Linked DNA regions of Homo sapiens. The protein of the gene in region 1 purifies or fractionates together with the protein of each later gene. This does not show direct contact. Each region holds a gene or a part of one and is shown on either strand. Other genes may lie near its edges.

What was found.
Region 2: the proteins of GIGYF2 (region 1) and EXOSC7 purify together in Homo sapiens (affinity purification with mass spectrometry; 2 studies listed by BioGRID). This does not show direct contact.

What each region holds. Positions count from the first base shown.
Region 1 is NC_000002.12:232,854,176-232,861,240, reverse strand, and holds the end of GIGYF2 (GRB10-interacting GYF protein 2), read right to left. Parts: intron 4,449-7,065; coding exon 4,381-4,448; 3' UTR 636-4,380; downstream 1-635. UniProt on the Homo sapiens protein: Key component of the 4EHP-GYF2 complex, a multiprotein complex that acts as a repressor of translation initiation. In the 4EHP-GYF2 complex, acts as a factor that bridges EIF4E2 to ZFP36/TTP, linking translation repression with mRNA decay.
Region 2 is NC_000003.12:45,007,244-45,012,261, reverse strand, and holds the end of EXOSC7 (exosome complex component RRP42), read right to left. Parts: intron 4,843-5,018; coding exon 4,687-4,842; intron 1,028-4,686; coding exon 923-1,027; 3' UTR 791-922; downstream 1-790. UniProt on the Homo sapiens protein: Non-catalytic component of the RNA exosome complex which has 3'->5' exoribonuclease activity and participates in a multitude of cellular RNA processing and degradation events.

The DNA.
Region 1 (7,065 bases):
AAACAGTCTTTAAGAGGTGATGTCTCTGCTTGTTATATCAGCTGGATTGAACCAAGTGTGGAGGTGATCATGAATTCCATCCCCATGATGTCATCGCTTTGGCAGCAATGAAAGGGAACGCAATGACAACTTTTAGGTCGAAGATCAGCTGTTAGGTAAAGAGCCCACTTCTTCCTTGCCAGCATCTATATGCTGTTTCTCCCATGTGGTGCCCCACTGCTATGGTTGACACTTTTGTTGCAAAACATTCCCACTGATTAATTCTTTGGAGGGAAACTGTCCTCTTGAAGGTTTTAGGTTCCCAGTCCAAAACCAGCACTACCAAAAGCTATACGTGTCCATCGTTCTCAGGCAACACCTGCAAATAACTATCACGCATCTGGCTGCTTCAAGGTTCCCAGACTCTCCAGAGTCTTAGAAAGCATTGCAGCTTCCTCACCAGAGACTGAACTCACGCAGGACCAAAGGCACCCTTCATAGCTGGGCTTTTGTTGTTCTAAGAAACTCATTAACTATAAGGCCAACTTCCATTTGGAATGTGCTCTGATTGTACTTTACTCTCTGTAGAATGCGCTTGCCTGCTACTCTGTTGAAAATGATCTACGTCACATATTGGAAGGACAGTACAGAATATGTTCATTTCAAAGAATCACTTCTGTTTAATTAGAGTCATTCACATACTTTTATTAATAATGCACAGTTGGGCATTTTATACAAAATTACCAATTTTGTTATCAGTCAATTTTAAAGTAGGGTGCAATATATATACGTATATAACATATATGTATATATTATATATATATTGAAAATGTAAAACATATACTTTTATATACATATTTGTATATATAAAAATATATGCATGTATAAATACAATGGTTTCCCTAAAAAAATTATTTAAATAAAGCCAGAAGTACCATTATCTATCCTAAAATTTAAAAAAAACAAGCTGGGTGCACTGGCACATAGCTGTAGTCCCAGCTACTTGGGAGGCTGAGGCAACAGGATCACTTGAGCCCAGGGGTTTGAGACCAGCCTGGGCAACATAGTAAGAACCCATCTCCAATACAAAAACAAAAACAAAAACCCTCAACTTAAAGCCAATGAAAATAAAGTCCTTCATGTATGCATAAACTCATTTTATGCAGATATTTCCCAAAAATGGCTATAATATCTCCCACCCCACAAGCTCTTCTCCAATGTGACCTTGTCACTCCTTTCATCAAGGCGGGGGGGGAGGGGGTTGCAGGGAGAGGGCCATGCTCCCTTCTCTTGAATCTGAGTGGGTTTGTGACTACTTTGATGCAACACAGTGTCACAGAAGTGACTCTATGTGACTCCTGAGCTAAGAGCTCAAAAAGGTAACACAGCTTCTGCCTGGTTCTCTGGGGGAAGCCAATCACCACTTAAGTTCAACTCCTCTGAAGCTGCCATTCCGGAGACGACACACATAAGCTCCTCCAGTCATCAACCCAGCTGAGTTCCCAGCCTACAGCCAACGTCAACTGTCATTACACGAGTGAGCCATCTTGGACAGCTTGCCTAATTCATTAAGCCTTCATAGGAATGATGCCCTGGAAGACATCTGACCACAACCAAAGAATACCCCAGGAGAACCACCACCCAGCTGAGCCCTATCCAAATTCCTGACCCACAGAATGAAGTAGCTGTTGTAAGCCAATCTGGAGGGAATCTGTTATGCACAGCAGCCACCAGCACACCAATCTGCTTGGGGACAGTCTCCATAATCAAACTGTCTTGTCTGGGATGTTTTTAAATCTCTGAATTTAAACAAATCAACCAACAAAACTGGAGCTGGGCATGGTGGCACACACCTGTAGTCCTAGATATTTAGGAGGCTGAGGCGGGAGGATCACTTGAGCCCAGGGGCTCGAGACCAGTGTGGGCAACATCACAAGACCCTATCTCCAAAAAAGCCAACCAAACAAAAAACCGGAAGCAGAGAGGGTACAAAACAAATACTTCAAAACTCAGGAATAGTTAGGAGAATTTGGAAATAAGTTCATAGAATGGGATGAGAAAACGGTGGCTCTAAGTGAAAGGGTGAGCAAATGAGAATATGAAAGAGAGTAGCATTGAGAGAGACAGAAACAAACATTCCCAGGGAAGAGTGTTTCTTTCTACTAAGTGGGAAATTCCTCAGATAGAAGCAAGTCTCCTTGGTTAAGCAAATGGATGTTCCATGACCAAAATGACTTTGTTCCCCCTAATCTGCCCATTCCACTCCCAATTTTTAAAAATTTATTTTCATTTTTCCTGAATACACACACAGAGTCTAGTTGGGAAGGTGTGGGCAAGCTCTGGAGGGGTGTGTTCAGAGTGGGTGTGTCTGCGGTATGAGGGCAGGAGCTGATCCACATGTTAGCAGAAAGGGAGAGTCAAAAAGAGAAAAGATATTTGGTCAAACTTACCGACATCTGCCTTGACCTCTACATTCTCAAATACAGAACCAGCCAGTGCTACGTGGTCTGGCAGAGAAAGAAGCCATGGCTGCCTCCATGTCTTGGGTGCTTGGAGCTTTTCCATGGTACCAAGAGGAACAGTTTAGTGCAGAACTCAGCCTCCATAAAGGTGAGTACAAGAGGTGCACTCAGATAGAATACAATCAGATTTTATTTAAGTTCTTTTTTATTTTCCTCCACACTGGCAAAAGTTCCGAGGGAGCCTAAAGTTTTGTAAACATTTTAACTATCCCTCTTACCCACCCCCAACTTTTGAATTTACAAAGCAAAGGAGAGTAGGAGCCCCAACTTTTAATGGTTTCCTCTCCCCTCATGCTATTTGATCCAAAAACTATATACAATTTTGTAGCAGTCTCTGTATAGTTATTACACATGTTTAGAAGGGAGGGAGGCAAGAAGGGATAGGGAGAATGGTGATCCAAAATAATAAAAATAGAAGCCAAATATAATACTCCAAACCCAAACTGCTCTCAGAGCAACTCCAGCCTTCTTCAGGCAACAATGACAGGCAGCAAAGGTGCTTTTCCAGGGGCTGCCCAGACCACAGCACCTCTCGCACAGGCACAGCTGCCCAATGACTCCAACCCAGTGTGAGTGGCAATTCCAGGTGATGTTCTGTAGGGGTTTGGTGGAGGCAGGAAAAGTATTTGTTTATAAATAGGGCTTGAGTACATTTCTACTTGAAGTTTAAGGTTTTAGGAGGCCATGACCAGAAGCCAGGCCAGGCTTCCTGCTCCCATTTTCGCCCATCCCCTCCAGCCCACTGCATCCTCCTGTATAGTAGATTCCATGGATGAAGGTCTTAAAGATGGACAGGTTCTGTATGTTCTCTTTTCAGAAAAGGCAAACAACTTGCCATCCCAGAATCTTTACACAAAACCTTTTCCGGGCTACAGCAAGACACACACGCAATGCTCTGAGGACCAGATGAAATTCCAGGCTTTTATCAGAAGCAAAAGTTTATCCCTATCCAAAAATGAAATTATACAAATTCATACATATGGTAAAGATTCTAGCTGCCTCTTAAACGAGACAAATTTTCAGCAGAAGGGCCCAAAACAAAATGGTCCTAGTCCTCTGAAGTAAAAATATTTATGGGAAAAATCAGTTTTTGTAAGAAAGAAAAATTAAGAATAGTCTCTCTCCCAGGCCATAGAGCTTCCTTTGTCCAATCAGGTTGGAGCATGCCAGGGGAGATCAGCTTGCTCAGAAGTCACTATCTAACGAAGAAAAACATAAATCCTTTCAGAGAAAGGACACTCAGAAAGAACAGGTGAGGAGTGTGTAACATCAAACCAAACCAACCTCATCTCAACCCCACTCAGGGCCTCTCTGATGCAATCCCAAAGTTAGCAGTGGCAATGCAACTTTCAGACCGGGAGAGCTCTGACTGCCTGTTGGATACTCGAGTCACAGTCCATGGGGTGTTTTGTTATTGGCCAATGTCTGTTAACCATTAACTCTCTTCATGATTGCACCAGTTAGACCATTTGCCCTGATGGGGGGAAAAAGAAGAAGAAAAAACAAAATAGAAGAAAAAAAGTGACAAGAGAAAGCAAGCTGCTAATGGCCGATCCCAACACACTTTCTGGGAGACAGTAGATGAAATCACAGCACAGTGAACACATGCTGCCTAAAATCAGCCTTGTTGGGGAGTAATCCCAACTGCCACCCCCAAGACACAGGGTCCAGTCCACTTATCTATAGTCTGAGATGTTCACCAACAAAAATGGATTAAAGAATCTTGGACACAAAGGGCCAGAAGAAAAAGCCTGAGATGATCGGTTCTGTGATTTGTTGCAGAGTGATAAAGAGTAAATGGTGAGTAAGTGTTGTGTCCAAAGGTGGAGACTCCATAGTCGGCAGACAGGAGAGGGATGGCCAGTCCACTGGCAGGTGCTCAGTAGTCATCCAACGTCTCGATTTCACCCATGTTGAGTCGCTCCGATGATGCATTGACTGAAAATCCTGCAGAAAAAAAACTGGCTATGAGTGACCACACCCAGGCAACCAAGCGGCTCAAATTCTAGGCGGTGAGCTGGAATGTAAGTCTGTGTTTGTTTGTTTGTGAGACAGGGTTTCACTCTGTCACCCAGGCTGGAGTGCAGTGGCGTGATCTCGGCTCACAGCAAGCTCCACCTCCTGGGTTCAAGAGATTCTCATGCCGTAGACTCCCAAGTAGCTGGATTACAGACACATGCCACCATGCCCGTCTCATTTTTTTTGTATTTTTAGTAGAGATAGGGTTTCACCATGTTGGCCAGTCTGGTCTTGAACTCCTGACCTCAAATGATCCGCCCGCCTCGGCCTCCCAAATTGCTGGGATTACAGGCGTCAGCCAACGTGCCTGGCCAGTCTTTTGTTTTTGAGCATACCATAGAAGTATTACAGGGAGACAAAGATAAAGGTCACAGCAGTAGCTTTCTGTTCTTCCAATGAGAGAGATTTTTTATTTTCTTAAGGTTCTGATATAACCTAATTAGGAAGGAAAATAAAACAAAATAGCATCACCAATTAAAAAGAACTGCAGGCCGGGTGTGGTGGCTCATGCCTTAATCTCAGCACTTTGGGAGGCCAAGGCAGGCGGATCATGAGGTCAGGATATCGAGACCATCCTGGCTAACATAGTGAAACCTCGTCTCTACTAAAAATACAAAAAAACATTAGCTAGGTGTGGTGGTGGGCACCTGTAGTCCCAGCTACTCGGGAGGCTGAGGCAGAAGAATTGCTTGAACCTGGTCGAAGGAGCTTGCAGTGAGCCGAGATCGCGCCACTGCACTCCAGCCTGGGTGACAGAGCGAGACTCTGTCTCAAAAAAAAAACAAAACAAAAAAACCCCCTGCAAACCACTGCTTCAGAGAATCAGAGAAAAGAATGGGATGTGAGTGTGTATCAAGGACAGGCTGGGCTGGCCCTGGAGGAAAGTTCATGCAGGAGGTCTACCTTAAAAGAGATGGGGGTGGGCAGGGGGGTTACCATGGAGGGTTGTATACACTAAGTTCTTTGTAACTACTTGACCACATAACTTTGAAATCTGAGTGGGATTAATACCCCTTTAAACCTCAACCCACTTTAATGGGAATACTTCTTCCCACCAGTCAAAAACTTTATGAAAGTTCTGGCCCAGAGCTTTTGATACTCAGGGTAAGAGGCTCCATGGAAGACACACTATTAAGATCCTTAGAGTCCTCGCATATTCTCTTTCCCACAGTAGACAGAGCAAGAAGATTAAAGTACTCTAACTCGATCTACTGTAAATATATCTGCAAAGGAAAAGATTTCAGTTAGCAATGTTTGATTAACCAAAAGGGAATTTGGCTTAGAAAAAGCAGTACTAGCATACCCATTGAAGGCAATAAGCAGTACTCACAAACACAACTGACAGCTGAAAACCTAATGCTGGCTGGGCACACTGGAGGCCGAGGTGGGTGGATTACTTGAGGCCAGGAGTTAGAGACCAGACTGGCCAACATGGCAAAAACCTGTCGCTACTCAAAATACAAAACATTAGCTGGGCGTGGCGCTGCACGCCTGTAATCCCAGCTACTCGGGAAGCTGAGGCACAAGAATTGCTTGAACCCAGGAGGCAGAGATTTTAGTGAGCTGAGATAACATCACTGCACTCCAGCCTGGGCAACAGAGTGAGACCTTGTCTCAAAAAAAAAAAAAAAAAAAAAAAAGAAAGAAAAAGAAAAAAAGAAAACCTAATGCCGAATGCCCAATGGTCACATGTATGTAATTTTTCCAAAACTTCTATAATTGGAGGTTGATAAAAATGATGAACAATGCCTCTTTAAACTGAGTGACTCCCCAAAAATGTTCCAGTTCTTCTACCTTGAATAAAATCCCAAACTGTTTTAGTTATTTGAATACCAAAAAGTAAACAGGCAATGTCCTTATTCTAAAAGCAGTTCTGTTAATATTAGCTGGGTTTTCTGCAGCCTCTTGTTTTTTCATGTTCAAGTTTTCAAATAAATACACATTTGAAATGTAACAGTAATAAACAAAAATGCCTTACATAAAATACCTTAATTAACTGACTCAAAAATATCATGATTCAAAAAAATAAACATGCCTATTTATTAACCAAAAAAGCTGTGGTACCAACTGCTTACAAGACCAAATATAGGGAGAGGCTAGGATTCCAAACCCCATCCTGAGTTTGACCCCATCAACTGTGTTCCAATAACCCACAAGTCTTTTTCTTCCCCCTTGAAAATAGTGACAGCCTTAGTGTTTATATATATATACATATATATGTATTTTTAAAGACAAGGTCTCACTCTGTCGCCCAGGCTGGAGTGCAGTGGTGTGATCTTGGCTCACTGCAACTTCCACCTCCCAGGCTGAAGCGATCCTCCCACCTCAGCCTCCCCAGTAGCTGGGACTATAAGCGGGTGCCACCACACCCAAGTAATTCTTGTAATTTTTGTAGAGACAAGGTTTTGGCATGTAGCCCAGGCTGGTCCCCAACTCCTGGATTCAAGCAATCCGCCCACGCTGGCCTCCCAAAGTGCTGGGATTACAGTCATGAGTCACCGTGCCTGACCCTAATGTTTATGTTTTTAAAGTAACAGTTAATTAG
Region 2 (5,018 bases), on another chromosome or scaffold:
AATGCCACGGTTGAAACGCTCTCCTTCGTGAATCAGCTCCTTCCCCAGGGTGTTTTAAGATTTAGGAGTTTCAGTTCCCCTAGAAAAAAAAACAAAGGCTGCTCTACACATGAAGAGACTTAATTTTAACACACTGCACAGTGAGACTACAGGCTTATAGGAAGAGCCTTCTGGGCCAGCAAGCATAGTCTTCCTTTCAATGCTGAGAGCATGAAGGCAGCTGAATTATCAAATGACAACATCTTGAAAGCTGCCTTCTTAATGCTGACAAAACAAAATCTTAGGAAACACCAGGGAGTGGTTATAAAACACAAAGCAATTTCAAAACAAGAGTGATAAGAAAGGATGGCTAAGGGCCAAAGTGGCTGCCACTAAAGCCCCTGAACCTAGGGAATTCCATTCGGATCTCTTGGAGGGCAGGAAGTCAGAGCTGGACTTTCCCAGGATTTGGGATGGCTAACCAGACAGACAGACGCCCTGGGTGTGTACCTGCAGCAGAGTGCCTCCTCTTTTTTCCTCTCCCAGAACCACCCAAATACACAAGGTGAATGAACTTTTCTTTGTGATTCTTATTTTTAAAGTTCTTCAAGGGGAAAAAAATTCACAAAATACATATCATAAGCATTTCCTGTAAACCAGTTTCTGTCAGGTCTTTACTCCAGCTTGTGGGGGTCTCCCTTGGTGGCAGAGCTCTGGATTTGTCTGCCACTCACTAGATAAGGGCCAGACCCAGATGGGTCACTGAATGGTGCCTTGGCTTCAACTGAAGAACTCTAGACATACCAAACCAGACCAGAAAATAGCCTTTAATTTTACATGTACAAATGCTGCTGTAAATTCGTAACAGCGAAGAAAAATATATACGAACCGGTTTAAAAGGAAAAGTAAAAAACAATCCACAGTTGAGCAGTTGATGTGCAAATCATCCCAGGAATCCAACTTTCTGTCTCTTGGGCCCCAGGCTTTCTTCCTTGTGCACAACACTCTGCAAGGAGGCATGCAGTACCTTGCCCACACGCTTGCCAGTCTGTGGAGAAGGGACGGGAGAGAGCACACACCCCCTTGTAAGGCACACACACTCTGACCAGAAAAGCATTCCTTTCTGCCAGCTAGTCTTTCTGACATTGTACACATTCCATCTGCCTTAGAGGACTTTTATTTAATTAAAGCAAATTAAAACAAAAACCACAGACCCCAACAACATAATAAATTTTGTAAAAATCGTCATATCAAAAAAATAAAAAAGAGAGACAAACACCAGCCCCCACCAGGCAACAAACAGAGAGCAGCAAAGCCTGCCCTGGCCATTAGCTCATGCTTCACTATCCTGCTGCCACTGCAACAAGCAACAAAGTTGTCAATCAAATCTGGGCTTGGGTACAGCCAGGTGACACTGTACTATAGGGAGACCACAGGGAATCCAGAGTCTGTCTGGAGAAGAAACAGATGATGCCAAGGACATTTTAGTAAGCAGCTTCTCATTCACCTCCCATGAAGCCTCTAAGCAGAACTGCTCAGGTGTGACCAAAGTCAGTACCTGGATGGGATCTTTGGTGTTTACTGCCATGCTGAGATGCTAAAGGCAGTGAAATGTTAGAATCGAAACACATCAAGAGGGACAACCCACAAAATTAATAATCAGTCCCTACAGAGCAGACACGAGAGGTAAAAAAAACAAAAACAAAAACAAAACAAAACAAAAAAACTCAATATGGCTGGGAGTAGTGGCTCATGCTTGTAATCCCAGCACTTTTGGAGGCCAAGGCAAGAGGATTTTGCTTGAGGCCAGGAGATCAAGACCAGACTGGGCAACAGAGTGAAACCCCATCTCTACAAAAAACTAAAAATTAGCTGTGCATGGTGGTATGCGCCTGTAGACCCAGCTACTCAGGGGGCTGAGATGGGAGGATTGTTTGAGCCCAGGAGTTCACGGCTGCAGTGAGCTGTGACTGTGCCACTGTACTCCAGCCTGGATAACAGAGCAAGACCCTGTCTCAAAAAACAACCACCACCCCAATATAAAAAAATATATTTTTCTTTATGAAACTGTTATTCTGTCTCTGGGCCCAAGAATCATTTTAAGAATACAAAGAACCAACCACAAATCTCTACCTTATCAGGTCTTTCACATTCCCATAGCAGTGTGGATTCAACTCTGCCACTGGTTCCATTCTCAACAATGTTGAGATAAAAACATCCATGCCTAAATCCCTGCCTCAATCTCTTCAGTTACAGGTGTATCCTCCCCAGAGTAATGACTTGTGTGTCTTCTCCCCTGGCCCCTAACTGTAACATGGGATGAGATCCCAAGTATGACTAAAACTCTTATGAAAAGATGATTTCGATCTAAAAGGCTGGGAAGTGATCACCTCTATGAAATGCAAAGTCAGGGTTAAAGGTCAAAAAGGCCTTCGGGGGCTGGATGTGGTGGCTGATGCCTGTAATCTCAACACTTTGGGAGGCTGAGGCAGGCAGATCACAAGGTCAGGAGTTCAAGACCAGCCTGGCAAACATACTGAAACCCCGTCTCTACTAAAAATACAAAAAAATTAACTGGGAGTGGTGGCGGGCACCTGCAATCCCAGCTACTCGGGAAGCTGAGGCAGAATCACTTGAACCAGGGAGGCGGAGGTTGCAGTGAGCTGAGATCGCACCACTGCACTCCAGCCTGGGCGATAGTGTGAGACTCCATCTCAAAAAAAAAAAGGGCCTTTGGAAAGATTTTCCCATAACATTAGAAAAAGAAAAAAAAGTCTGAATCTGTCAAACAGGGGTACTGATTATTCATATACATGAGGGTGGGGAGAGAGGACAACAAGAGGAGATGAGATGGACAGGATGCCAGGACTTGAGAGGGCCTTGACGCCTCTGAATCCAGATGCAGGAAAGCAACTGCAGAGGCTAGGGGTGGCAGCCTGCACAACTACCCCCAAGGCTCTCAGCTCCACCAAGTCATTTTCCAGATTGCTGCATCCCTGTGTGAGATAAACAGTAAGACAGGGCCACAGAGCTATAGTCCCCTGTCCAGAGTTAGCAGACCTCACTCCCCAAACCTGAGGGGAGGACAAAGCTCAGCTCACTGAACAGAGCTCTGGTTCTGCCATCTATGACAGCCAGGGCAGATCTGGTTTATAAGGCTGACATTGCACAGTGGCTGGGAGCAGGGGCTCTGGACGCACACAGTCTTGGCTTAAATCCTAGCTCCAGTATTTATGAGCAGGGAGGCCTGTAGGCAAGCTGCTTATCCTCTGTGTGCCTCAGTTTCCTCATCTGTAAAAATGAGGACAATAATAATAGTTACCTCACAGGTTGTTGAGGACTAAATGATATATTTAAAGCAGTGAAAACAGTATCTGGCACATAGTACGCACACAATAAACTCCAGCTATTTGTTTACTGTGCTTGTTGTTGCTGTTTAAAGAAATTCTCATAAACTCTCCTGGGAGGGGGAAGAGTACCTTCTAAAACAAGGTTTGACAGTCCCTTGCCTAGAGGACTTTGGTAGAATTTATGCAGCATTAAGTCTGGAGAAATTTGAACTCAGGGTGCTTCATGGAGCACAGAGAATAAGAGCTGCCATTAGCTGAGAACTGATGACATATCAGGCACTGTGACATGTGCTTCTCCTCTACACCTCACATCATCCTAATAACAACCTCAGCAGTGTCTGGGCAGATATTACTATTATCAGTCCCACTTTGCAGATGAGGGGGACTATGGCCCAGAGCCAGGTTTGCAGCCAGGGCAGTACACCCTCACAGCCCATGGTTGGGAACTCCATGCTATATACAGTGCTCATTTTGGCCTTTTAAATAACATGATAAAGAGAGAAAGTAGATGTCATGTTCTTGGATTCTTCAGTATGAAGTCATTGTTTCTAAACACAAAAGAAGAGTGCTTGCTATTAAGCAATGATCTCTGGGCATGTGTGGTGATATAGAGGTTGCAAGAAAGTATGAATAATCAGATCCTGCTAACTCTGTTCCTGGAAGTTCAGTCAGTCAATCAGTCAGAAAGGTGAGGTGGATATAGGGGAAAGAAGGTCTGGGAAACAGGTGAGCAGGACCCTGTCCCTGCCCTGCGGGGCTTCCAGGCCAGTGAGGTGACAGACATGTGGGGCAAACAGTACAGAGAACTGTAGAAGCGCCTTGATGGCTCTGCTAGGGATGAGGGCAACCCAACCCAACTCCAGTGGGTCAGATTTCTTACCATCCCTGCTTGTCTCCATTTAAACACTTCTAGAGCTGTAACGAATTTGGGAGACAGCCACAGTTCAGCCCGTGCTTCCACCTTTACTCACCCACTTCTAGGGACAGGAAGCAGTGAGCCAAGAATTCTATTCCCTCATCAAGTCACAAAGGCCTGCACTTTTGGAGTTACGAGTGGCTCTTTACATTATGAAAGTCCAACAGTCTTATTTAGACACATAGAAATGAGATGGGGGGTACTTACTGAGGACAATTAATGGTTACTGGTAGGCTCCTTACCTCCCAGTCCAGAGTATCCACCCCCACAACCCCCCTTGATTAGGTCAGCAGACCCCTGGCTCAAACCAGCTGTTCCCAAATCTCCAAGTTTGGGGTCAAGGCTGTGAATGGGGAGAATCCCCACGGTATGACCAAGGGAGCAGGAAGCAGCAGGCACCCCGGCCAGGTCCCTGCACCTTCCTCAGAACTAAGGCCTCACCTCCATCATCTCGAAGATGCTCTCTGGGTCCAGGCTGCCCTTCCCCACTTTCCTCATGCACGTCACAACTCCCTTGCTGGTCACCGACACCAGCAAGCTGGCCAGCGAGCAGGCCTCCTCCTGAAGAGTAGCATCCACCACATGCCGATAGCCAATCTGCAAAGGCAGGGTGCGTGGCACACGGTGGGTCACGCAGGCCCCAGAGTCCCACCCCTGATGGCCTCGTGGTGGGAATCTCTACACCAGGCAAAAGTATTTGCACTGGTCATTCCAGGTCTTATTTTAGATTCTGCTCACGAGGAAAACAGCTGAGGGATTGTTCAACAATTCTC